Linked DNA regions of Homo sapiens. The protein of the gene in region 5 purifies or fractionates together with the protein of the main gene of each other region. This does not show direct contact. Each region holds a gene or a part of one and is shown on either strand. Other genes may lie near its edges. The genes, in order: LARP7, PRPF8, LSM3, RPL26L1, SART3, LSM8 and LSM4.

Region 1 (3,944 bases), on a different chromosome or scaffold from region 5:
TTTGATAAGAGATTAAGATGACAGTCCTGTATGGACCCAGTTAAGTTCAATTCTGGGAAGGCTTTAAATGCTTCACTCCCATGATTTTCCTGAATAAAATAACAGAGCTCAGTTCTGCCTAAGGTTGATTCCTCTATTTTTTCCTTCTTGTGCTAATAGCACCTAATACATTTTATTTTGTCTAACCAAAACAAAACATTTAACTTGATTTATGAAGAAACTCAATTCTTTTAAAAATTTAACATTTTAATTAGAACCAATCCCTATGGTCTATTGTTCAATGGAAGCTCAGATAGGCAAAGTGGAATGAATAGAATGAACTATTAAACATGTCTGTATAAATCAACATGAAAAGGTATTGAAGGTATTGCAAGTTACAAACTAAGTACAGTGAGAGTTTAGTGTTAAACATTTCTCTAAACTTTATATATATTCATGTAGTATTTTTGCAATTATGTTTTGTTTTTACAGTATAAAAACAAAATCAACACATTTCCAAATAATGTTCAAAACACATTTATTTACTAAATCACCTGACACTGACATCTAAGATAATTTCAACAAATAAAATGTTTAAGAAAAATTGTGGTATACATCATATTTGTCTCTAGAAAAAAGTCTTATTTACAAGTTGAGGAACAAAGATATTTCTTTTAATTAAAAACACATTAATTATGCAGTGCTACCATAATAAAAGTGAATCTCCCAAGAACAGCTCAAGTATCTTGTGAAGTATTAAGAGGTGAACTGTTTTTTTTTTCAATCATATTCAGAAAATCTTATATGTTTACTCGCTTGTTGAGTCTTTGCCAGTCTAATCTTTTCAGCTTTGGTGATTAACTAAAGAGAAATAAATCAAAAATTAAAATGTATTGGATACTCAAAACACACACACACACACACACACACACACACAAAACTATGACTAGAAAAAATTTCACAGCTATCAGCTTAAATGGAAATTTTTTAAAAACAGCGAGAAGATGACAAATGAGATAATTATGCTCAGGTCAAATCAATTACAAATCAAATCTGTTATTAAGGCTATTTACTATTTCCTATTTCTTACACCCTTACATAAATTGTTGAATATTTTTAAGGAAGGCAAATGAAATTACACAGAATAAAAAAGAAAACTGTTTAAAATGTCTAAAATATTCCAAAAGCTTCCTTGAGAAAAAAAAGTTAAAATATTAAACTTTGGAGTAAATGCAAATCTTTTTCTCTAAAAAATATAGATTCTAATGAGTATTCATTTAAATAGTTTTAAAGTGTTTGGTACCATATGGCAATTGGAAGGAATTCACTTTTAGATTAAACTAAAAGCCTATTATTCATCATTGAGGTGAATTAAAATCCAAAGATGTTTAGAACTCTATCATACCCATGCTGCTGTTCACAAATTTTATAAATTCTGCCTTTACCTGCTGAGTATCAGTAATTTTTACAGAAAAGAATTCAAATGTTTTAAAAGCCAAAGAGAAATAAGCTTCATTCTGTCTCTAGTAGCTGTTATCTATTTTTACCAATGTGTTCAAAATCATAGGGCATACTACAAAGATTTAGGCTAGCAAAATGAATAGGAGACATCCCTTTTGGCAGACCTTTCCTTCATCTTCTTGATCTTTTGTGATACATCACTAATTTAATTTACTTGTGTTTAATATATTATTTTAGTTTCGTTTTTTTGAGACAGAGTCTTGCTCTGTTGCCCAGGCTGTGGTGCAGTGGCGCCATCTTGGCTCACTGCAACCTCCACTTCCTAGGTTCAGGCAATTCTCTTGCCTCAGCCTCCCCAGTAGCTGGGATTACATGTGCGTGCCAGCTGGCTAATTTTTGTATTTTTAGTAGACAGGGTTTCAATATGTTGGCCGGGCTGGTCTCCAACTCCTGACCTCAAGTGATCCACCAGCCTCAGCCTCCTAAAGTGCTGGGATTATAGGCATGAGCCACCGTGCCTGGCCCCATAATGTGAATATTAAGAGCCAGAATTTTTTTACTTTTACTCAATTATGGGCCAAATACAACACTATTGTAGAAATATTGGGCTGTCAGGTCAGTAAGGTATTTATGTAACCTTTTGGCAGATTCACTGATGTTCTACTAGTTTTTTTTCTAAGCAATTTCCATTACTTACTAAGATGCTCCTAGTACTCCAACTACACTGGTCTTCTAGTCCCTGACAGTCTTCCCTTCCGGTCTCTGCATTTTCTTTGCTTCTGCCTGAAAAGCTATACTTCTAAACTTTACTGGGGCTTACTCGCTCACTTCCTTATGGGTCTTGGCTGTAACATAACCTTTGCAGAGAGTTTTCCAGACAACCTCAGCTGTTACAATGCTCTCCTGCAATACACTTTATTTTTCTGTCTAGCACTGGTCATCACCTAAACTATATTGTTTATCTGTTAGCTTCATGAAAGTAGGGGACTTTGTGATTCATGGCTTTACCCCAGGTTCCAAGAATGGTGCCTAACACAAGGCACTCAAAAATCATTAGCTGAATTAACTAGCAAACAAGTTGGCTAAACTAATTATGGTCTACTCCTTTTTTCCAACAAGCTTTGCACAGCACTTACTTTCTGTGTTAACCTCCGTTTCATTTCACGACAAGAGTCAACTGGCTACTTCCATAGCTACTTAACAAATTGCGTTAACGACAATCCTGACGTCATAACTGAGTTGTGTTCCAACTCAATTTAAGAACTTCCTAGTCAAAGATGAGCTCTAAATTTTTAAAATGAAAAATAAAAGGTTTATTCCTAGTTTTAAAAATATATAAAATCTAAATGAAATTTCACACCAATTAGAAGGGTATTATTTAACAAAGTGACTTCACTTCAGTTACCAGTTCTGGATTAGTGATTTTAACATTTGAATAATCTCAAACTGGCTTTGAAATTAACACCTCATATCCCTGAAAGAATCCTTGGGAAGCACAGGAGGCTTCCCCACCACAGCAAGTTCAGTCTCCTTTCAAGGAAACAAAATTCACACCTCCCCACAAATCACGATAAATTCTGGGCAATGGTAGAAGAAGGTTGATGAAAAACACTTGCTTTTTAAGTTAGTTTTTTTTTTTTTTTGTATAAATATGACCCCAAATCAACAAGCTTAGATTACAGGAAATAGGACTTTTAACTTGCTCACCTAACAAAAAAGGAAGTTCATCTTTTTCATTTTTCTTACACTTTTATAATATGCATTTCTAAATTTTGATGACTGTAGTTAATATTAGGTATTATGTACCCTACTTTGTTCCAGGCACTTTTAAAATGTACTAACCTTTACATGTATAATAATTTGTTTTAAAACTTTAAGAGACAGGGTCTTGCTATGTTGCCTAAGCTGGAAAGCAGTGGCTATTCCCAGGTGTGATTCCACTACTGATCAGACCAGTATCATTTTAAGTGACAGAAAAATAAAATTACTGAAAGAGGGGCTTGCTTTAAATTATTTAAGCTTGTTTGTATTACCTACTATCTTAGAGAAAGAGGAATAAAGCTTATCGTTGCTATAGGAAACACTATGCATAAAGTCTCTCCATCTTATCTATGGAGCCTCCTATCTTTATAAACTACATTCTGAATACATTGTGTTTTTACCATGAAGATAATCTTTCTATAATCATTTATCACCAAACTACAAGACATAGCAGCCAGATATCAAGACTGTTAAAGTATATCACTGGTTAAAAAGAAAAAATCTAAATTAAAATTATGTATCCTTGTGAGAAAAATAATTCAATTTCATACATTTTGAAATCTAGAGAAATGACTTTTCCCTCCCAACCTAAAACATAGTATATACTCAGTAAATTTTTGTTAGGTAATAGCAAAACTACGATCATTTTATGACTACCTAGTACTGACTTTGGCATTAAACGTTCAAGGAAAGTTTAGTCTAAAAAAACAAAAATGAATCAATTACCTTTTCAGTGCCTCTTT
Region 2 (3,500 bases), on a different chromosome or scaffold from region 5:
GGGATTACAGGTGCCCGCCACCACGCCTGGCAATTTTTTTTTTGTTTTGTTTTGAAACTGAGTCTTTCTCTGTTGCCCCAGCTGGAGTACAATGGCACGATCTTGGCTCACCACAGCCTCCGCCTCCCGGGTTGAAGTGATTCTCCTGCTTCAGCCTCCCAAGTAGCTGGGACTACAGGCGCGCACCACCATGCCTGGCTAGTTTTTGAAATTTTAGTAGAGATGGGGTTTCACTGTATTGGCCAGGCTGGTCTTGAACTCCTGACCTCAGGTGATCCACACTCCTCGGCCTCCCAAAGTACTGGGATTACCAGCGTGAGTCACCGTGCCCAGCCTCACTGGACTTAACTTTCTCAGATCTTTTTTCATGTATACATTTAGACAGGGCTCTTTCCAGGGACCTATTTGGAGAGCAGCTATGACTGTGTCCTTACTGCTCCTTTAAATTCACATGGGCGATCTTAGTTCCTGGTTTTTGCCTTAAGGTTTCTCATTTACCCTTTTGTTTTAGATGTTGAGGTCCCAGAGTTTTTTTTTCTTTTTACCCCTCTACTGCCATACCTACATTCCTCTGTATGTATATTATACATATATGCCCCACCTCTGCCCAGGTTTCTATTGTTGTTTAAATGCATTGCTAACTTGTATTCTTAACTTCTGCTTGGGATCGTAGGGCCCTGTAGGGAAGGGTCCTGGCTGTGGCTTCTGGGCTGCCGGTTGGCGAGTCTGGCTCTTTTTCATGCGTGGCATTACCCCTTTATTAGAGCGATGGCTTGGCAACCTCCTGGCCCGGCAGTTTGAAGGTGAGTGGTTTTCTCTGTGTCCAACTTCTCCTGTTATTGCTTCAAAAGTACCTGCCCCTGTTTGAGTCTGTTCCCTGCTCTTGTATGAGCACTCTTCCTACTGGATTGCCTTTAGGTCCAGTTCTGAAATGAGTCTGACCTAGTATTCTATTTCTTGGGCTTCCTTCTGGGGCCTTGAGAGGCAGTCATGCATTTGCAGGAGTGGAAATTCCTCAGAAGCATAGTTGTGAATGTTTAAGGTAGCTCGTCTTTTTGCATATGCTGGGCACAGGGACGCTTTGTTAATACCTAATTTTATTAATAACCATAATGAGTGAGGAGCATGAAGGTAGAGACCCTTATTGAAAGCAAGGAATCTTCCTTGTAATCCCCTTGGGACACTCTACTTCCAGGTCGACACTCAAAGGGGGTGGCAAAGACAGTAACAAAGCAGCGAGTGGAGTCACATTTTGACCTTGAGCTGCGGGCAGCTGTGATGCATGATATTCTGGACATGATGCCTGAGGGGATCAAGCAGAACAAGGCCCGGACAATCCTGCAGCACCTCAGTGAAGCCTGGCGCTGCTGGAAAGCCAACATTCCCTGGAAGGTGGGTGTCTCTTTATTTCCTTGGAGGCGTAAACATCCGTCTTTAGGGTAGGATTACCACTTCGGGAATCATTAGGGGGCTATCTGGCTCCAATCTCTTTTCTTTTCCCTTTTAGACAGGGAAAAGAAGCACCATGTTGCTTAGGCTGGCCTCAAGCTCCTGAGCTCAAGCGATCCTCCTTAGCCTCCTGAGTAGCCGGGACTACAGATGTGTGCCACAGTGCCTGGCTGGATCCTGGCTTGATTGTGCTTTTTGGACTTTTAGGTCCCTGGGCTGCCGACGCCCATAGAGAATATGATCCTTCGATACGTGAAGGCCAAGGCTGACTGGTGGACCAACACTGCCCACTACAACCGAGAACGGATCCGCCGAGGGGCCACTGTGGACAAGACTGTTTGTAAAAAGAATCTGGGCCGCCTCACCCGGCTCTATCTGAAGGCAGAACAGGAGCGGCAGCACAACTACCTGAAGGTTGGGCAGAGTAGGCTGGGCTGGGTGTGAGTGGTGGGGGAGTGGGCAAGAGGGAGGACTGTAGAGTTGTGACTGAACCTTGTTCTGGCAGGATCGGGCTGTAGCGGGAGGCTAATTTCATGTCCACCTTACAGGACGGGCCTTACATCACAGCGGAGGAAGCAGTGGCAGTATATACCACCACAGTGCATTGGTTGGAAAGCCGCAGGTTTTCACCCATCCCATTCCCCCCACTCTCCTATAAGCATGACACCAAGTTGCTCATCTTGGCATTGGAGCGGCTCAAGGAAGCTTATAGGTGAGTAGTAGGGTAGATAGGTTCCTGCTGGGAAGGTGACAGCAGGGAATGGCGTCATCCTCAGAGTCCAAAGAAAGAAGGTGTAGCCCCAGTCTTTCCTGGTTTTACTTCCTCCTAGTTTTCCCATTCACCCTTCCCATTGCTTTTGTCAGTGTGAAGTCTCGGTTGAACCAGTCTCAGAGGGAGGAGCTAGGTCTGATCGAGCAGGCCTACGATAACCCCCACGAGGCGCTGTCCCGCATCAAGCGTCACCTCCTCACACAGAGAGCCTTCAAAGAGGTGAGTGAGGCCTCCCAAGTTTTCTTTTTGGTTCTACCAAAGGTAGCAGTTGCCTTTGGTTCTACCAAAGGTAGCAGTTGGTGGATTGGTGTGAACCAGCCTCCTTGTCCCACAGGTGGGCATTGAGTTCATGGATCTGTATAGCCACCTCGTTCCAGTATATGATGTTGAGCCCCTGGAGAAGATAACTGATGCTTACCTGGACCAGTACCTGTGGTATGAAGCCGACAAGCGCCGCCTGTTCCCACCCTGGATTAAGCCTGCAGACACAGAACCACCTCCGCTGCTTGTTTACAAGTGGTGTCAAGGTAGAACTTTCATGAGATCGCCCTGTGAGGAACGGGGCAGGAATTTAGTTCTACGTCAAAAATCTCATCTGGGTAGCATGATTGGTTTACTCTCTTGATGCGTGGTAGTAAAGGGAAGTAGTGTTCGTGTTAAACTGAGGAAAAGCCCATAGTCAAAGCAATCCAAATGAATACGTGGAATCATAGTGGGATTGGTTATGGAAGGTAATGATAGTTCCTGTGGGGCTAGTCTTGCAAGAGGATTTCTAACCTGCTGGAGACCTGCCTTGCTACTCCTCAGGCATCAATAACCTGCAGGACGTGTGGGAGACGAGTGAAGGCGAGTGCAATGTCATGCTGGAATCCCGCTTTGAGAAGATGTATGAGAAGATCGACTTGACTCTGCTCAACAGGCTGCTGCGCCTCATCGTGGACCACAACATAGCCGACTACATGACAGCCAAGAACAACGTCGTCATCAACTATAAGGTGCGTCTCAGGCGCAGTAGCATGGAATTGTGTGTGGAGTGCTTGTCTGGCCCACTGACTCAGAATTTGCTGAGGAGGAGGCTGGGTGCGGTGGCTCATGCCTGTAATCCCAGCACTTTGGGAGGCTGAGGCGGGCAGATCACGAGGTCAGGAGTTCGAGACCAGTCTGGCCAACATGGTGAAACCCCGTCTCTACTTAAAAAAATACAAAAATTAGTTGGGTGTGGTGGTGGGCGCCTGTAATCCCAGCTACTTGGGAGGCTGAGGCAGGAGAATCACTTGAA
Region 3 (3,500 bases), on a different chromosome or scaffold from region 5:
ACAGTAGCACGATCTCAGCTTACCGCAACCTCTACCTCCCAGGTTCAAGTGATTCTCCTGCCTCAGCCTCCCGAGTAGCTGGGATTGCCAGTGCCTGCCGCCACGGCCGGCTAATATTTTGTATTTTTAGTAGAGACAGGGTTTTGCCATGTTGGCCAGGGTGGTCTCGAACTCCTGACCTCAGGTGATCCACCCGCTTTGGCCTCCCAAAGTGGTGGGATTGCAGGCATGAGCCACTGCACCCAGCCTTTTTTTTTTTGAGACAGCGTTTCACTCTTGTTGACAAGGCTGGAGGGCAATGGCACAATCTCAGCTCACTGCAACCTCCGCCTCCAAGATTCAAGCAGTTCTCCTGCCTCAGCCTCCCAAGTAGCTGGGATTATAGATATATGCCACCACACCCAGCTAATTTTTTGTATTTTTAGCAGAGACAGGGCTTCACCATATTGGTCAGGCTGGTCTCGAACTCCTGACCTCAGGTGATCCACCTGCCTCAGCCTCCCAAAGTGCTAGGATTACAGGTGTGAGCCACCATGCCTGGCCAGGTTTTTTTTTTTTTTGAGACGGAGTCTCGCTCTGTCGCCCAGGCTGGAGTGCAGTGGCGGGATCTCGGCTCACTGCAAGCTCCGCCTCCCGGGTTCACGCCATTCTCCTGCCTCAGCCTCCCAAGTAGCTGGGACTACAGGCGCCCGCCACTACGCCCGGCTAATTTTTTGTATTTTTAGTAGAGACGGGGTTTCACCGTTTTTTTAGCCGGGATGGTCTCGATCTCCTGACCTCGTGATCCGCCCGCCTCGGCCTCCCAAAGTGCTGGGATTACAGGCGTGAGCCACCGCGCCCGGCCCAGGTTTTTTTAATGAATAAATATTTAAAAAATTTTTCAGTTTCAGTTTCTAATAAATTAAGTATTAATAGATCAAATCCACAGAAAACGAAAGAACACTGTCCACTATTACTGTTACACACTATTATACATAGCCACCTTGCATTGTTGTATCTCACTGAATCTGGGAACCCTATGAGGTAAGTGGTAGTATTCCTGCTCACCAATGAGAACTCAGCTAACTTAATTCCCTTGCCCAAGGTAGCCCAAGTAGGAAGTGGTCAAGCCAGTACTGGCAACAGGGTCTGTCAGATGCCAGAACCCTTGCTTTTAATTGCTATGCTCTACTGAGTCCATAAGTAGGTGTCAAAACATGACAGGCTTCCCATAAATATGGGTTAAGCTGTTCGAGAGAGAACAGCTGATATTTGCAAAGCAATGAATAGAATTGCATGACTTACTTTATATATCTCTTCATATGTTTCTTCATCAATTTCTATAGTAGTCACAGTTTCTTCCACATCTCCCAAGATCATATTTAAATGTTGATCATAAGCCTAAAGTGGGAGGGTACAGAACCAAGAAATTTAATAATCAAATTACAAAAATGATAAAGGCTTAACAATATGCAAATTGCTCAATTACAACTAGGGCATTTGATACTTACATCACAAACTTTTACATGCAAATAAAAAGTAATCCTACAGTACTAATATACTGTTTCTTCACAAGTCACTTCCAATGATTACTTAATTGACCTGATAAAAATATAAAACTGCTTATATTGCCAAAAATAAATTTACTTCAAATCACTTGAAATTATTTTTAAAGTCTCCACCCCACTTGTTATCTAAGGCAGTCACATCATTTATAATATTTAATTATGAAAAACAGCAGATTCATCTTCATCATTTATCAGTAGACATCCTTCAATTTCACCTATAACAATCTGACAAGAAAAATACAGTAAAGAAGATAAAATCCTTTGTTTACTGGTAAGATAATGCCATTGCAGTCTTCTAAAGGCACACAGTAGACCACATGTCGCAGAGAGAAAGTAAGTAGAGCAACACCCTGCCCATTTCTAACCTATCCAGAACTTAAATGTGTTTAGTACCTGTGGGCTCAATCAATAAATGTTACAGCTAAGATATTCAATCCAAGCTCCAAAGTTCATTCATTTTACTAAAAGGTGCACTTTCTGGGACCTTGTTCAGAACTCAAGTTTACTTCTAACAACGTGTTACATGGTTCACCTGCTCACATCAAAATAAAAGTCACTTGTCAGCCATGTGGGGAACTGCTAAGCAGGGCACACTAACAAGATCAAACATGTATAGCTGAGAGGCACAAAACAAACAGAAAGTTGGGGCCATTTAGGATAGAGACCATCAAGTTTACACAGGGAACTGAAGAAGCCTCCAAGAGCCACAAACTTAAGTAATTAAACTCAATTCCATTTGTATTCCCAAAGTTACCACCATTCCTTTCCTGGAGTCTCTCTTCCTTTAAGGCCAGCTGTAGATTGTCTCCCTGGGTCCCTATTTCCTTTCCAAGCCCAGAGGTTCTTTATCTTTAGGTTTTGTGGAAGGCGGAACCACAGTACTTAAGAGTGGGGCTCAGGTCAGACAACCTAGATTCAAATTCTGGCTCTCCCTTTACCGTCAAGTGACTGTACCTTTCTGAGCCTGAGCTTCCTACACTGCAAAGCAGGAATAATTAGTATGTATCATCATAGGGTTGTTATAAAGATTAAATGAGATATCACACACAAAATGCTTAGAATAATAGTACCTGGTCTATAATTAATGCTCAATAAATGTTAGCTATTTTTAATCACTTTAGGGTAGAGTAGCAATACTAAAAACAACACACTTAGGAAAGTAACAAGTCATTAAGGAGAGGCAAAACCTTCAGGGTTCTCTATGAACAAATGGGATTATTTCAAGGGACCAATTCTACAGATATTTTGCAGATATGCACAAAGAAATATGTAAAAAAATGCTTACTGCAAGTATTTACGTATTTGTAGCAAGAAATGAAAAAAAATCGATCACTATCATATACAGAATCCTAGGTAGTCATTAAAAAGAATAAACGAAAATTAAATGCACTCATGATCAATTTCCAAGAAAGATTAAGTGAAAAAAAAAAAAGGTACTGAAAAACATGTATGGCAAGATCCATGTTTTGTAGAGGTAGGGTGTACATAATGCAAGTATGTGCACATGTACATATATGAGTGTATATGTGTAAACATACAGAAAAGGTAACCCAATTTTTAAATTTTATTTTTTGTAGAGACAGGGTCTCTCTATGTTGCCCAGGCTGGCAACACAGAGAACTCCTGGCCTCAAGTGATCCTCCTGCCCCAGTCTCCCAAAGTGCTGAGATTACAGGAATGAGCCACTGCACCTGGCCAAGATAATCCCATTTTTAGTAGTGATTACCAGTAGAAGAAATGGGATTTCACTTTTTACTCTATATATTTTTGTGCTGTTTAACTTTTCCTAATAAAACACATATTTGTGTTTTAAATTTAAAAAACATTTACGAATGGAGGACAAGTAAATATTATTTACAAATAAACAGAAGGGAAAAATGAAGGGAATAAAAATGTTCTATAATAAACGTATTTCTATTAAAAGAAAAAATGTTAAAAATGTGAATACATGCC
Region 4 (3,500 bases), on a different chromosome or scaffold from region 5:
AGGAAATAGTTTAGTTTGGAACATGCTAAATTTGAAGCATCTGGGGACATTCTAACAGAGAATTCAGACACAGCTGGAATGCCAACTGGGCCAGCAATAGAGACGTGGGAGTCATCCACAGAGAGGCAATTAGGAGCTTCATGTTGCTCAAGGAGTGATGGTATGAGAAAAGGGCAGAATGTACACATGTGAGAAAAGCCAGCATTTTGGAAGAGCTTGTGAGAGATTAATGTGGCCAGAGCGAATGGGAAATCATGCAAGTGTGGTGTTACAGCAGCCAAGAGAATGTCAAATTCTGTGGGACTGTCAAGAACACAGAGGATAAGGTATTTAACAGATCTGACAACAAGGTCATCAACAGTGGCTGTGGCTGGAATGCCTTCACTGAGTGCTGGGATGGAGGCCATTAACAGTAAAGTGATGAGTGTACCAGGTGAGAAGGTGAAGGTGAGAAAAGACAGTCCAAAGGAGCTTGGCTCTGAAGATGAGAAGGGGATAGATGTTTGAGGGGGATGGAAAGCTAAGGGAACTTTCCTTTATTTTTTATTTTTAAAGAAGGGAAAACATGATTGTGTTTAAATGCTGATGGAAGGAACAAGTATGGAGGAAGACGGTAAAAGAAACTACAGAGAAAGAAGATAAGGGACCAAAAAAGCTCCAAGAGAAGAATGGAGCAGCACCCAGTGGCAGATGGATTAGGCTTAGGCAGAAACAGGGATATTTCTTTCTTTTTTTTTTGAGACAGAGACTTGCTGTGTTACCCATGCTGGAGTGCAGTGGCGTGATCTTGGCTCACCACAACCTCCGCCTTCTGGGTTCAAGTGATATCTCATTGCCTCAGCCTCCCTTGTAGCTGGGATTACAGGCATGTGCCATCACGCCCAGCTAATCTTTATATTTTTAGTGCAGACGGAATTTCGCCATGTTGGCCAGGCTGGTCTCGAACTCCTGGCCTCAAGCGATCCACCTGTCTTGGCCTCTCAGAGTGTTGAGATTACAGGCGTGAGCCACTGCACCAGGCCTGGGATATTTCTTTCATTGTAACAGAAGGGAAAGAAAATAAGAGGGGTGGAACTACAGGTAAACGTGTAGGTGTGGAGCCACGATTTCTGAAAGTTCCTGGCTGATAACTTCAATTTTCTCTGTAAAGTAGGAGGAACCATCACCTACTCAGAGAAAGAGGAAGGTAAGTGAGATTCAGAAGATCCCGTGAGAGGAGGCAATATTAACAAACCCAATCAGGGCTATTTTATTCTCCTGGTGGAGAAGTGTTCAGCCAGCATGGCCTTTGGCTGAAACAATTCATACCTCTTAGGCATTCAAAAAATGGCAACAGGCAGCCGGGCGTGGTGGCTCACGCCTGTAATCCCAGCACTTGGGGAGGCTGAGGCGGGTGGATCACCTGAGGTCAGGAGTTCGAGACCAGACTGACCAACATGGTAAAACCCCGTCTCTATTAAAAATATGAAAATTAGCCAGGCATGGTGGTGTGTGCCTGTAATCTCAGCTACTTGGGAGGCTGAGGGAGGAGAATGGCTTGAACCCGGGAGGCAGAGGTTGCAGTGAGCCGAGATTGTGCCACTGCACTCCAGCCTGGGCAACAAGAGTGAAACTCTGTCTCAAAAAAAAAAAAAAAAAAAAAGGCAACAGGCCAGACACTGTGGCTCATGCCTGTAATCCCAGCACTTTGGGAGGCCAAGGCAGAAGGATTGCTTGAAGCCAGGAGTTTGAGACCAGCCTGGGCAGCAAAGCAATACCTATTTTTAAATAAATAAATAAATAAATAAATGTCTCTAATTTAAAATATATATATATTTAACAGCAGCTCCTTCTCCCTCTTTGCCCTCCTTCTCTGTCTCACCTTCTACATCTTACCTACTCAAAAAATTTTTTTCATTCATTCAACAAATATTGACTGACCCTTCTCCTCTCTAAGTGTCAGGCTCTGCACTGAGGTCAGACAACAAACAAGATGAACTCTCTGGTTTCATGGAGCTTAGCCTGATGGCCAGTAAGCAGTTAATGAGTACATAGACAAATACATGACCACTAACTGGAATAAGTCACATAGGAACTTACTGGGATGATTAAAAATGGTCTTTTTAATGGTCTAATCATAATTAGGGTAATGGCTATTTGGTTTTACATTTGCCAAAACTGACCTGTGCATTTTACTGTGTGTAAATTATGCCTCAGTTAAAAATAAAATGATTTCAAATTGTGCTTACTGCTACGAAGAAAAAATAAAGAATGCTAGGCTATAATATTGGTTAAAGGATCTGGGAAGGCTTCTCTGAGGAACGGACATTTAAGGTAGGACCCGAAGAATGAGGAGTTACCTATGTAAAGGAGAGAAGGAAGAGCACTCCAGGCAGAGAGAACATTCCAGCGGGAGAAAAGATCAAGGTGTATTTAAAGACCCCAGAAGCCCAGTGTGGTTAAAGTGTAGAGCACATGGGGGTTAGGAGGAGATGAGGATGGAGAAGTAGACCAGGATTGGCCCATAGAGGGCCTTGCAGTCAATGATTTTAGATTTTTTTTTTTTTTTTTGAGACCGAGTTTTACTCTGTTGCCCAGGCTGGAGTGCAGTGGCGCAATCTTGGCTCACTGCAACCTCTACCTCCTAGGTTAAAGCGATTCCCCTGCCTCAGCCTCCCGAGTACTTGGGATTACAGGTGTGTGCCACCACACCTAATTTTTGTATTTCTAGTAGAGGTGGGGTTTCACCATGTTGGCCAGGCTGGTCTCGAACTCCTGACCTCAGGTGATCCACCCACCTCAGCCTCCCAAAGTGTCGGGATTACAGGCGTGAGCCACCGCGCCTGGCCATGATTTTAGATTTTATAAGCACATCAGGCACCATTGGTAAGCACCTGGCTAACTCCTCATTTCTCAGGTCTTCTCTTAAATGTATTAGTTCCTCAGAGAAGCCTTCCCAGGTCCTTTAATCAATATCATAGCATCCTTTATATTTTCTTCATAGCAATGAACACAATTTGAAATCATTTTATTTTTAACTGAGGCATCATTTACATACAGTAAAATGTACAGGTCAGTTTTGGCAGATATAAAACTGCCAAAGGATTTTTTTTTTTTTTTTTTTTTTTTGAGACAGAGCCTCACTCTGTCACCCAGGCTGGAGTGCAGTGGCATGATCTTGGCTCATTGGAAGCTCCCCCTCCCGGGTTCACGCCATTCTCCTGCCTCAGCCTCCCAAGTAGTTGGGACTACAGGCGCCCACCACCACGCTCAGCTAATTTTTTATATTTTTAGTAGAGATGGGTTTCACCGTGTTAGCCAGGATGGTCTCAATCTCCTGACCTCATGATCTGCCTGCCACAGCCTCCCAAAGTGCTGGGATTACAGGCGTGAGCCACTGTGCCTGGCCGTTTTTTGTTGTTGTTGTTGTTGTTTTTGAGACAGAGTCTCACTCTGTCACCCAGGCTGGAGTGCAATGGCACAATCTCGGTTCATTGCAACCTCCGCCTCCCGGGTTCAAG
Region 5 (3,500 bases):
TTTTTTTTTTTGAGAGCATCTCACTCTTGCCCATGCTGGAGTAGTGGTGTGATCATGGCTCACTGCAGCTAGGACCTCCCAGGCTCAAGTGATCCTCCCAGCTCATCCTCCAAAGTATCTCGGACTACAGGCATGCACCCCCATGCCTGGCTAATTAAAAATATTTTTTTTTTGTAGAGATGGGTTCTTACTATGTTGCCCAGGCAGGTGCTGAATTCCTGAGCTGAAGTGATGCTCCTGCCTCAGCCTCCCAAAGTGCTCGGATCACAGGCGCAAGCTACTGCACGTGGCCTTGATTATATTTTATGGTAGCTGGCAGTTTGCTGTGGTATCTGTCTAACAAAAGCAAATATTTTCCATTATATGTGTTTGTGCGCTGAAATTAAAAGTGGCACTTCATGGTGGCTTCGGCAGATTTGTCAGTGCAGCAGTACGGAGACTATGGCTTTGCAACCCTGAACCCAAGCCTTCCATTGAGTAGTGGAAAGGCCTTGTACAAGTTATTTCAGCTCGCAGAGTCTTGGGTGTCCCAGTTAGTAAAATGAAGGTTGTAATAGTGCTTTCCTCATGGGACTGTTGTGGGGCATGGCACAATGTGCGTAAAGCGCCTGGCACAGTTTGGCGCATAATAGGTGCTGCTCCATTCTCCCTTCCCTGCCTTTGATTGCACCAGTTGTTTTCTTTCCATCAGTCCTCTCTATTATTTCTCCCCCATTCTAGTACAGCTAGGTATAACACATTTTTCACATTGCTAGGGAGTTAAATCAGTTAGCAGATCATTTTGTGATTGGTTAAGTTTCCTTTAAAGCATCTATGTTGTTAATCCCAGCTACTCGGGAGGCTGAGGCAGGAGAATCGCCTGAACCCGGGAGGCAGAGGTTGCAGTGAACTGAGATCACACCACTGCACTCCAGCCTGGGTGACAGAGCAAGATTCCACCTCAAAAAAAAAAAAAAAAAAAAAAAAACTATGTCATTAATGATGTTCTAAGACCAGAATAGACCAGCATATGTACTCATTTATCAGTATAGATTGAACTATGTGGAAATAGCTCTTTTAAGTGCATTTCAGTATGTATTTAATATATGTACTTTCAGAGTACTTGTCCACATATAGTATCTTCATCATTTTACCCTAAAAATCAGAAGTTTACACCAAAAGCCACACCTTAAAAGTCAGCTTCTTGACTTTAGCGACTTTTATACCTTTTTCTTCTGCTGATCCACACATGGTGTTCATGTGAGGGGCACTTGCATGCATAGATATTCGTGACACTGACTAGCAAGTGCTCTCCCACTCCTGTTTGTGCTCCGCAAGCACACTCTATTGAGTTCAGACTGGTGATGTGGTGGGGAGAGCCTTGAATGTTCTTTAATGAAGAAAGTGTATCCTTCTCAAACTTCACTTCTCAAACATCCCAAACTGCGGTTACTTTGTGTGACACACTTGATAGGTGATTTTGAAACATCAGTGTGTCATGATAGCCCATTTAAGAACCAGAGCTTTAGCCCAGCTCTTTCATGGTACAGATGAGGAAACAGAACAAGTGGGGATTAGAACACTTGTGTCCTGATCTGGTCCAGTGCTTTTCAGCCTATCGTGTGATCATCGGATGAGTTCAGCTTCTCAGGTTTTATGAATCATAAGCAGGAGAACATTGCTAAAAGTCTTAAGATTTAAAACTTAGAGATCATGTTCTTATCTGTAATTGATTATTATCTTTTGGCATGTAATTTGATAAATACAAAGCAGTTCACATCATGTACAAGAGTTTCTCACCAGATGCAGTGGCTCACACCTGTAGTCCTAGCATTTTGGGAGGCTGAGGCAGGATGATCCCTTGAGCCCAGGAGTTTGAGACCAGACTGGGCAAGATGGTGAGACCCTGTGTTTACAAAAAATAAATTTAAAACATTTAGCTATGTGTGGTGGCATGAGCTTGTAGTAGCAGCTACTCAAGAGGCTGAGGCGGGAGGATCACTTGAGCCTGGGAATTTGAGGCTGCAGTGATTTGTGACTGCCACGGCACTCCAGCCTGGGTAAGAGTGAGACCCTGACTCAAAAAAAAAAAAAGAGAGTTTCTCAAAGTCACTGTTTTTCAACCTGGGGGTCATAGTCATAGGTTGTGAATTTATTTTAGCTGAAACAGCAAGTGCCACCTGAGCCATAGTGTTTTTCAACTGCATGGGTCTGTTTTGGGCTCTCTCTTCAGTTTGTCTATCCTGTGCCAATTCCACTGATTAACTTATTGCTAAGGCTTGCTATCTGGTAAGACAAATCCTCCTACCTGCTTTTTTTCTTTCCTTGCAGGGTGTTTTGGCTCTTTCATATAAATTTTAGAATTATTTTGTCAAGGTCTGTGAAAAACCCTGTTGGTTTTTTTATTTGAATTGCATTGAATTTATGGATTATTTAGGGGAGAATTGACGTCTTTGCCATAATGATTATTCTAACCCAGAACATGCATATAACTCCATTCGTCTAGGTATTGAATATTCTTTCTATTTTTGAGACATGGTCCTGCTCTGTTTCCCAGGCTGGAGTACAGTGGCATGATCTCAGCACACTGCAACCTCCGCCTGCTGGGCTGAAGCGATCCTTTCACCTCAGCCTTTCGAGTAGCTGGGACCACAGGCATGTGCCACCAGACTCAGCTAATTTTTACAGTTTTTGTAGAGACGGGGTTTTGCCCTGTTGCCCAGGCTGGTCTTGAATTCCTGGACTCAAGTGATCTGCCTGCCTCGGCCTCCCACAGTGCTGGGATTACAGGTGTGAGCCACCGCCCCCGGCCAAGTCTTTAATATCTTTCAATCAAGTTTAAAAACATTTTGCCATAGAGGTCTCACACATCTTTTGTTAGATGTATTTCTAGGTACTTTATAGTGCTTGATGTTTATGCTATCCTATTTAAAATTACATTTTAAAGCTTGCTGGTTTATAGAAATGTAATTTTTTTATTGTAAAAAACATATAACGTAAACTTTGCTATCTTATTCTTAAGTGTATGGTTCAGTAGTGTTAAGTATAGTCACATTGTTGTGAAGCAGATCTCCAAAGTTTTCATTTGCATATATACAACTCTACCAATTAAACAGCTCTCCTTCTCCTTCCTTCCCAATCCCCTGATAACTACCATTGTAGTTTTCTGTCTCTATGAATTTGACTAGATACTTCATATAAGTGGAATCATACAGTATTTGTCTCTTTGTATATAATTGATTTTTATACATTGCTCTTATTGCTTGTCACTTTGCTAATCTTGTTTATTATTTCCAAATGATTTGTTTGTAGATGAGTTTTGGTTTACTATACATTGATATCATCTGACCATAATTAACAGTTCTCATTCTTTTCTCTATATCTGTTTCTTTTCCTTGTCTCATTGTTAAAACCCCAGACCTCCAGTACAGGGTTAAATAGAAGGCAATACTGGGAAGTTTTTTGTGTTTTTTAAAAGGAATTTTAATGTATTATTAAATTTACTAAATATAAATATATAA
Region 6 (3,500 bases), on a different chromosome or scaffold from region 5:
AAATTTTAAATGATAATATTCAGTATCATTTAAAATCCCTATGGTAAGCAGGGAAATGCTGATACATTTTTAAAAACCAGCTCTCTGGAAAAAAAGCGGGAGACTGATTTGCTGCATTTACTAATATCCATTGTGCAAACACTCCCACCACGGCCAATTTCAAGCTACTAACAAGACATCAATTAACCAGCTTGTAAAATTCCTTAAAATATAACAATATGCTTTCATGGGCCAGTAGAAGCTGGCTCTAGCACAAGACTTTTTTCACTGAAGTTCAAGAAAAAAAAATTGTTTTAAGTAGGAGAAACCTTAAAATCAATTACTATGCACAGCTCCAATATAAACAGTGTTGTTCTGATCCAGAGACCTGGGCCCTATCTGCTCTGTCTCTCTCTCATTACTTACAGCTCACCTTGTAACTCCACCTAAAAGTCATCTCTAAAATATTTTATAAACTCTTGATTTTTGATTACAGATCAAATTATTTATTCATCTAAAGGTGATGCTAACATAAACAACTTAAATGAGTAAATTATTCCTGCACTTTTTAAGTTATTCCAGGGGACAGTTAGTCCCCTAGAATTTGTTAAATGTTCTAGCTTAAAATTGCTAATGTATCTTTTGCTTCTTTCCAACTATATTTTGATTCAGTGTAGTACTCACTAGAAAACTGATTTGGCATTCTTCTAGCCTCTATAACTATACTAATACTGGCCACATGTAACTATTAAAATTAATTACAATTAAATAAAATTTAAAATTCAGTTCCTCTGTCACATCAGCCACTTTTCTTTTTTTTTTCAAGATGGAGTTTCACTCTTTTTGCCCAGGCTGGAGTGCAAAGGCGCAACCTTGGCTCACTGCAACCTCCATCTACCAGGTTCAAGAAATTCTTCTGCCTCAGCCTCCCAAGTAGCTGGGATTACAGGCATGCACCACCACACCAGGCTAATTTTTCTATTTTAAGGAGAGACGGGGTTTCACTATGCTGGCCAGGCTGGTCTTGAACTCCTGGGCTCAGGTGATCCACCCACCTTGGCCTCTCAAAGTGCTGAGATTATAGGCATGAGCCACGGCACGTGAACCACATTAGCCACTTTTCTTTTTTATTTTTTGACACGGAGTTTTGCTCTTGTTGCCCAGGCTGGAATGCAGTGCTGCGATCTCGGCTCACTGCAACTTCCACCTCCCAGGCGAATTCTCCTGACTCAGCCTCCCGAGTAGCTGGGATTACAGGCTTGCGCCACCACGCCTGGCTAATTTTTATATTTTTAGTAAAGACGCGGTTTCACCACATTGGCCAAGTTGGTCTCGAACTCCTGACCTCAAGTGATCCACCCGCCTCCACCTCCCAAAGTGCTGGGATTACATGCTTGAACCACTGTGCCCGGCCTTTTTTTTTTTGAATTGGTGTCTCAATCTGTCACCCAGGCTGGAGTGCAGTAGGGTGATCTCGGCTCACTGCAACCTCTACCTCCTGGGTTCAAGTGATTCTCCCACCTCAGCCTCCCAAGTAGCTGGAACTACAGGCGCACGCCACCAAGCCTGGCTAATTTTTGTATTTTTAGTAGAGACAGTGTTTTGCCATGTTGGCGAGGCCGGTCTTGAACTCCTGACCTGATCCACTTGCCTCAGACTCCCAAAGTGCTGGGATTACAGGCACCATGCCTGGCCAATTACTCTTGAACTTTTATATCTGTCTGTCCCAAGTAAACTGAGGCCACAGGGACATCTTAAGTGTGTCAATGATACTAAAAAATTAAAAGAAAATGAATAACGAGTAAGTACTTATTTATAAATACACCTATGTTATTGAGCATGAATTAATATTGTTCAAATCAGAGATTTCAAAACATTTTTCAAACTTTGGCCTTGGACTCTAGAAATATGTTCCTCTAAAATTCTGGGTATTTGAAAGAACGTTTTAAGAAGTCTCTCTAATGAAGTATTTAATATAAGGCAGAGCCCTTTCTGGACTCTACCCAGGCTACTTAACTAGTAGAAAAATGGGCAAATCTCAGGTAAAAGTTTAATTTGTAGAGAGACAGCTTTGGTTGAAACCTAAAGAAGTGCTGACATAAAATGTATACATATGCCTTATTTTACACAAACATAAGAAAAGGTATATTTACGAAAGAAATGAATGCAAGATTCTATTAACTATGTATGGACAATACAGTAGGGTATTTTGGGGAAAGCCTCTTCTCCATAAAGTAAGGCAGTATCATTTATAATTTTAACAGATATATTTTACTTACACGTTGTCACCTCTTACAATGTATAATCCTAGTACCACTTGTTCTACCCCCTGTGAAGAGCTGAATACTCGTTCATGGCTTTCATCCAAAATCAAATTAATGGTCTGGTCAAAACCTTTCAGTGTTCCCTGTAAAGAAAATATTCAGGAGAAAAAGAGAAATATTCTGGTTTACCTGAAAGTGTAAATTTAACCTCACAGTCATTTTAGTTGCCAGGTATTCCAATACAAGTACCTATACGACGGCAAATAAAATGCCTTTTTTATAACCAACAGTATTCGAGGGTACACAATTTACCTCTTGGTTATTTGGCTGGGGTGGGGGGACCTGCACCACACATCTCACTCATATGTAGAGTTGACAGCAGTTGCAAAGGACACCTATGTACTAATGTGACTATCTCCAAGTAAGTAGCATAAAAGCTTATGTAGACCAGCAGCTAAAGGTATAAACTAAGACAAAGGATATTTAAGGGAAAATGATAGCCAAATATACATAAATAAGGAAGAACCATACATACCAACTACAGCAATGTAATAGTATCACTATATGCTATATGCCAGCACTAGGCAGTGTGCTAAACACACTGTACACATTTTCTCAACTCATCTCTACCCTTTGATTTAGTACTATAATTAGCCCCATTTCAAAGAAGAAACTGAGGCACAGAATGGTGTGTCTTATGATCACATGGGTAGTAAGTGGCAGAGCCAGGAGATGAACCACAAAAGGCTAGCTCCTGAGCCAGACCACTAAACCATAACATTCTATACTATTATACACAAGTAAATATAATTTGCCATTTTTCAGATTCAAATCAGTCCCATAAATATACTAAAAATTTAACTAGTAGTTACATGTAACACCTAATGAGTACATACTAGTTACCAGTGTTCTGTGTGTCTCACATGTATTGTTTAATGTGTATCATATGGATTTATTGTTTAATTCTCCCAGTAAGGTAGATACAAATGTGACTATACTAATTAAAACCAGAACTTGAAGGAAATAATCAGGGAGAGTTTTATGAAAGCTTAGTATTGAATAAAAGAAGACATGGGTCTAGCATAACAGAGTAACTCACATGGTATTCAAGTTTCTGAAGAAATATCAACTAACATTGGTTTTGATGGTTAAACCTCTCAAGTTCTTAAACTGTTTTATCTTCTGAAAGTCAAAATATATAAAATGAGAATGAAATAAAAAAGAGAATGAAATAAAATGAGAATGAAATCTGTAACT
Region 7 (3,500 bases), on a different chromosome or scaffold from region 5:
AGGCTCCGAGGCAGCGCTGCAAGGGCAACCCCAAGAAGGAGGGATGCCACGTGTGGCTGTCTTCCCGCCCCAGGTACGTCCACTGGAGAGGGGAGACCCACCTCGGCCAGCGCCGCCCATGCCGCGGCCTTTCTGCTGCTTCTGCTGCTGCAGGCCTCCGCGGCCGCGGCCCTTGGCCACCACCTCCTCCTTGACCATGTCGATGATCTCGTCGGGGATGCGCAGGTACTTGATGGTGCTGCCGCGGATGTAGCACTCGGGCATCCGCCAGAACTTGTCCCCGTCCTGCGGAGAAGGGGAGCAGGTTATTAACTTACCACCGGGCCGTCTGGCCCAGCCCTGGGAGCGCGGGAGGCCCTGCAGATCCTGCCCAGCCTGCACCCCGTACCACCCCTGCAAGCTGCACAGTATCAGTCCCGGGACATACGTGGCAAAGGGTCCACCCTGCAGGCAGGATCTGTCCTGACCCCAGGCAATCCTTCACCCAGGAGCAAGGGTGGGTGTGGTAGGCGCAGCCCCCATTGTGCACTCACAAGGAAGACTGGCTCCTATCCTCTGCCCGTGGGCCTGGCTCAGGAGTGGCTGACTGGGGCTCCCTCCAGCCTGGGATGGGGCTCTCTCTGGTTGGGGTTCTTCACCTGCAGCCCAAAGCCCAGAGCGGGTGGGGGCCTCCCTGTGCACCAGACACAGCCGAAGCCCAGCTACTCCTCCTCCTGCCCCAGCCCCACCTCACTTCTGGAAGCCTCTCTACATGCCCTGACTCATTCATTCATCTAAGTATCTCCTGACAGGGCCTGCGCTGGGTGCAGGGACATGCGAGCAAGCTACAGGCCTAGTGTGGTGGGTGAAGAGGGGCGGGAAATGGGGGGACTTGGGTCCTGCCAGGGTGGCTCAAGGGCGGCTCCCAGCGATGCCAGTTTTAGGAGAGCTAACCAAGACTGGAGAAATGGGGGCCTTGCAAAGACACAGACTCATGCTGCAATGCCTCCGAGGCCCCCACTGGGACAGATCGAGGGATTAGCAGGGGCCAGGGCCATTCCTACCATATCAGTTTCCCAGCCCCGCCCCACCGCCCAGGTTCCTGGACAGACCCACGCACGACGCCTGGATGGCCTTTGCCCCCGATGCCCTTTAAAGTCAGATCACAGTATGTTCCAGCTTGGAACCCACCCAGGGCCCCCTCCAGCCTGGGGGCAAGGTCTAAGAACCTCAGCAGGGCTCTCTAGGGCCCGAGATCCTGCCCCGCCCTGGCGGTCCTCTCCCAGCCCGACGACACTCCCTCCAGATGGAACTTTCTGTTTCCGGAACACACGCCATGGGCTTGCCCCCAGAACTTTGCACGTGGTTTTCCCACTTCTCATCTGGCTAACTTTGACCCCAAAAGGCCTTACCTGCCCGAATCCCCAAGTCCTCCTGTCAGACACTCTCCTCCACACCTGGGTAGGTGTGGCCTGGCCTAGCGCTGGGCGGGGAGGAACAGCCCCTTTGGGTGCTCACTCTCCCAGGAACCCCTCGAGGGCTCGTGGGGCGGACACACCATGGTTCTGTGGGGACTCAGGGCCTGGGCAGGTGACTTGGCGCCCAGCTCTCCCAGGCAGGGCCCAGAGGCTTCCTCGTGCAGGAACCTGGGCAGGGCCTGAGCTCACTGCAGGGAGGCCCCTGCCTCCTGCCCACAGCGCTCCAGAGGTCTCTCAGCCCGGGGTCTCTGCATCCTGCGGCCTGCCTCTGAGGGAGGGAGGGCCCCACTTAGATGGGGACGATGTGAGTTCCCATCGCCTCTCCTCCCAGCCACATGTGACGGCAGCATCACCGCCTGGCCACAGAGGCAGGCTGCTCAGGGAAAGCCATCCGTCCACTCGAAGCTGGAGGCAGAGGCCAAACCAACCCCTGGAGACCACGCAGCCTCTGAATCAACAGGCTTCTCATGTCTAGGACCTGGAGGTGTCCACAAGACCGCACATGCTCACGCACGCAACACGCCTGGTGATTCCAATACCGGAAGTGGACAGAGCCCCGCTGGCCGCAGATGGGAGGCACGCGGTTCTGCACCAAGGCACCATCCGACACAGCCAGACTGGACCCACCCAGACGCCCTCCGACAGGCTATGGCACGAAACCCAGCAAGCAGTTTCTAGAGCTTCTAGCGCTGCTGCACAGCAGCCTCACCACCTGTCCCCACCCCGCCCAGCCCTGTGCTGATGAGAGGCCCAGTCCCGGGTGGGGGTGGCGGTCAGGGCAAGATACGGCCACTTCAGGAAGAAGCGCCTCCCCCCTCGAGCCCTGTTGTCCTGTCAAGGTGACCCCAGGCAGGCACTCCAAGCTCCCCAGCAGTTTCCTCCCTATACCATGGGGGGCTGTCACCCACAGGGAGACAAGACAGATGGGGTCAGGGAAGGTTGGTGGGAGGAGTCCAAGGGAGCCGCTGCCTTCAGCACCATCCCTGGCCTCCTCCTCAGTGCTCTGTGGGTCATCCCAGGGGCAGGGAAGGCCCGTGACACCAGGGGAACCATCTTCCAGCCCCGGCCGACCCAGCAGCACTCCTAGCCAGGCACTTCCGGTCTTGGGCTCTGGCTGGTGGCTCCTGACCCACCGGGCCCTGGCGCTGCTCCTGCCCACCGTGACCTGGGCATCCCGGACATCCCAGGGCCACACTACCATGGCCCGCAGAGTGCAGGCAACATCCAGGCTGGACTAAAGGCAGCAGAGTCCGGGAGTCTTGGGCCTCCCCTGGAGGGGGCTGCCCCAGCCTGAGCCACAGGGAGTCCCCAGTCCTAGGTCCTTCCAGGTCAGGGGTGGCACCAACAGACACACAGCAGGAAAGTCTCCCACAGGGTCAAAGTCCAGGGCACACTGGGAGACTTGGTGGCCTAGCTCACCCTGCCCTGTCCCTCCTGACTGACCCCTGGAAGGACGAGCAGTCCTAGGCGGCCTCCCCCACTGACTCCTCCCATGAGGCCCAGGGAGGGAGGGAGGAGGCTGAGTGTGCACCCCCTGCATCCCACCCCCGTTGGTGGGTGCAGCACCCACCCTGGACGTGCAGATGACTTCTCGCAGGTTAATGTTCATCCAGTTGTCGCAGCTCACCAGGTGTCCATTGTACGTCTCCCCATTTTTCAGCTCCACCAACTAGAAGAGAGACAGGCTAGAGGTTGGCTGTAGCCCTGGAGCCCTGCGCCATGGGCCCCTCAGGAGGTGTAGCTCTGCCCTGAGATGGACCACCACCTCCGGGCCTCAGCCCACAGTTCCCAGACCCCTAAATGGCCTTCCTTACAGGCGACAGGCTCTGCCTCCGCTAGACACTTCGCTGGCAGTTAGACAGTCTATCATGACGCCAACCTTTGTGCAATTAAAAAATGATACTGGGCCGGGCGCGGTGGCTCACGCCTGTAATCCCAGCACTTTGGGAGGCCGAGGCAGGCAGATCACGAGGTCAAAAGATTGAGACCATCCTGACCAACATGGTGAAACCCCATCTCTACTAAAATCATAAAAATTAGCTG

The links.
Region 1: the proteins of SART3 (region 5) and LARP7 purify together in Homo sapiens (affinity purification with mass spectrometry; 5 studies listed by BioGRID and IntAct, with this or other methods). This does not show direct contact.
Region 2: the proteins of SART3 (region 5) and PRPF8 purify together in Homo sapiens (affinity purification with mass spectrometry; 4 studies listed by BioGRID, with this or other methods). This does not show direct contact.
Region 3: the proteins of SART3 (region 5) and LSM3 purify together in Homo sapiens (co-immunoprecipitation; 3 studies listed by BioGRID and IntAct, with this or other methods). This does not show direct contact.
Region 4: the proteins of SART3 (region 5) and RPL26L1 purify together in Homo sapiens (affinity purification with mass spectrometry; 3 studies listed by BioGRID and IntAct, with this or other methods). This does not show direct contact.
Region 6: the proteins of SART3 (region 5) and LSM8 purify together in Homo sapiens (affinity purification with mass spectrometry; 5 studies listed by BioGRID and IntAct, with this or other methods). This does not show direct contact.
Region 7: the proteins of SART3 (region 5) and LSM4 purify together in Homo sapiens (affinity purification with mass spectrometry; 5 studies listed by BioGRID and IntAct, with this or other methods). This does not show direct contact.

What each region holds. Positions count from the first base shown.
Region 1 is NC_000004.12:112,654,143-112,658,086, reverse strand, and holds the end of LARP7 (la-related protein 7), read right to left. Parts: coding exon 3,928-3,944; intron 841-3,927; coding exon 760-840; 3' UTR 501-759; downstream 1-500. UniProt on the Homo sapiens protein: RNA-binding protein that specifically binds distinct small nuclear RNA (snRNAs) and regulates their processing and function.
Region 2 is NC_000017.11:1,674,868-1,678,367, reverse strand, and holds part of PRPF8 (pre-mRNA-processing-splicing factor 8), read left to right. Parts: intron 1-673; coding exon 674-803; intron 804-1,195; coding exon 1,196-1,392; intron 1,393-1,656; coding exon 1,657-1,863; intron 1,864-1,997; coding exon 1,998-2,161; intron 2,162-2,313; coding exon 2,314-2,440; intron 2,441-2,555; coding exon 2,556-2,748; intron 2,749-3,028; coding exon 3,029-3,216; intron 3,217-3,500. UniProt on the Homo sapiens protein: Plays a role in pre-mRNA splicing as core component of precatalytic, catalytic and postcatalytic spliceosomal complexes, both of the predominant U2-type spliceosome and the minor U12-type spliceosome.
Region 3 is NC_000003.12:14,181,817-14,185,316, reverse strand, and holds part of LSM3 (U6 snRNA-associated Sm-like protein LSm3), read right to left. Parts: intron 1,381-3,500; coding exon 1,285-1,380; intron 1-1,284. UniProt on the Homo sapiens protein: Plays a role in pre-mRNA splicing as component of the U4/U6-U5 tri-snRNP complex that is involved in spliceosome assembly, and as component of the precatalytic spliceosome (spliceosome B complex).
Region 4 is NC_000005.10:172,962,424-172,965,923, reverse strand, and holds part of RPL26L1 (ribosomal protein uL24-like), read right to left. Parts: intron 1-3,500.
Region 5 is NC_000012.12:108,554,674-108,558,173, reverse strand, and holds part of SART3 (spliceosome associated factor 3, U4/U6 recycling protein), read left to right. Parts: intron 1-3,500. UniProt on the Homo sapiens protein: U6 snRNP-binding protein that functions as a recycling factor of the splicing machinery. Promotes the initial reassembly of U4 and U6 snRNPs following their ejection from the spliceosome during its maturation.
Region 6 is NC_000007.14:118,187,164-118,190,663, reverse strand, and holds part of LSM8 (LSM8 homolog, U6 small nuclear RNA associated), read right to left. Parts: intron 2,387-3,500; coding exon 2,259-2,386; intron 1-2,258. UniProt on the Homo sapiens protein: Plays a role in pre-mRNA splicing as component of the U4/U6-U5 tri-snRNP complex that is involved in spliceosome assembly, and as component of the precatalytic spliceosome (spliceosome B complex).
Region 7 is NC_000019.10:18,309,577-18,313,076, forward strand, and holds part of LSM4 (U6 snRNA-associated Sm-like protein LSm4), read right to left. Parts: intron 3,127-3,500; coding exon 3,028-3,126; intron 286-3,027; coding exon 102-285; intron 1-101. UniProt on the Homo sapiens protein: Plays a role in pre-mRNA splicing as component of the U4/U6-U5 tri-snRNP complex that is involved in spliceosome assembly, and as component of the precatalytic spliceosome (spliceosome B complex).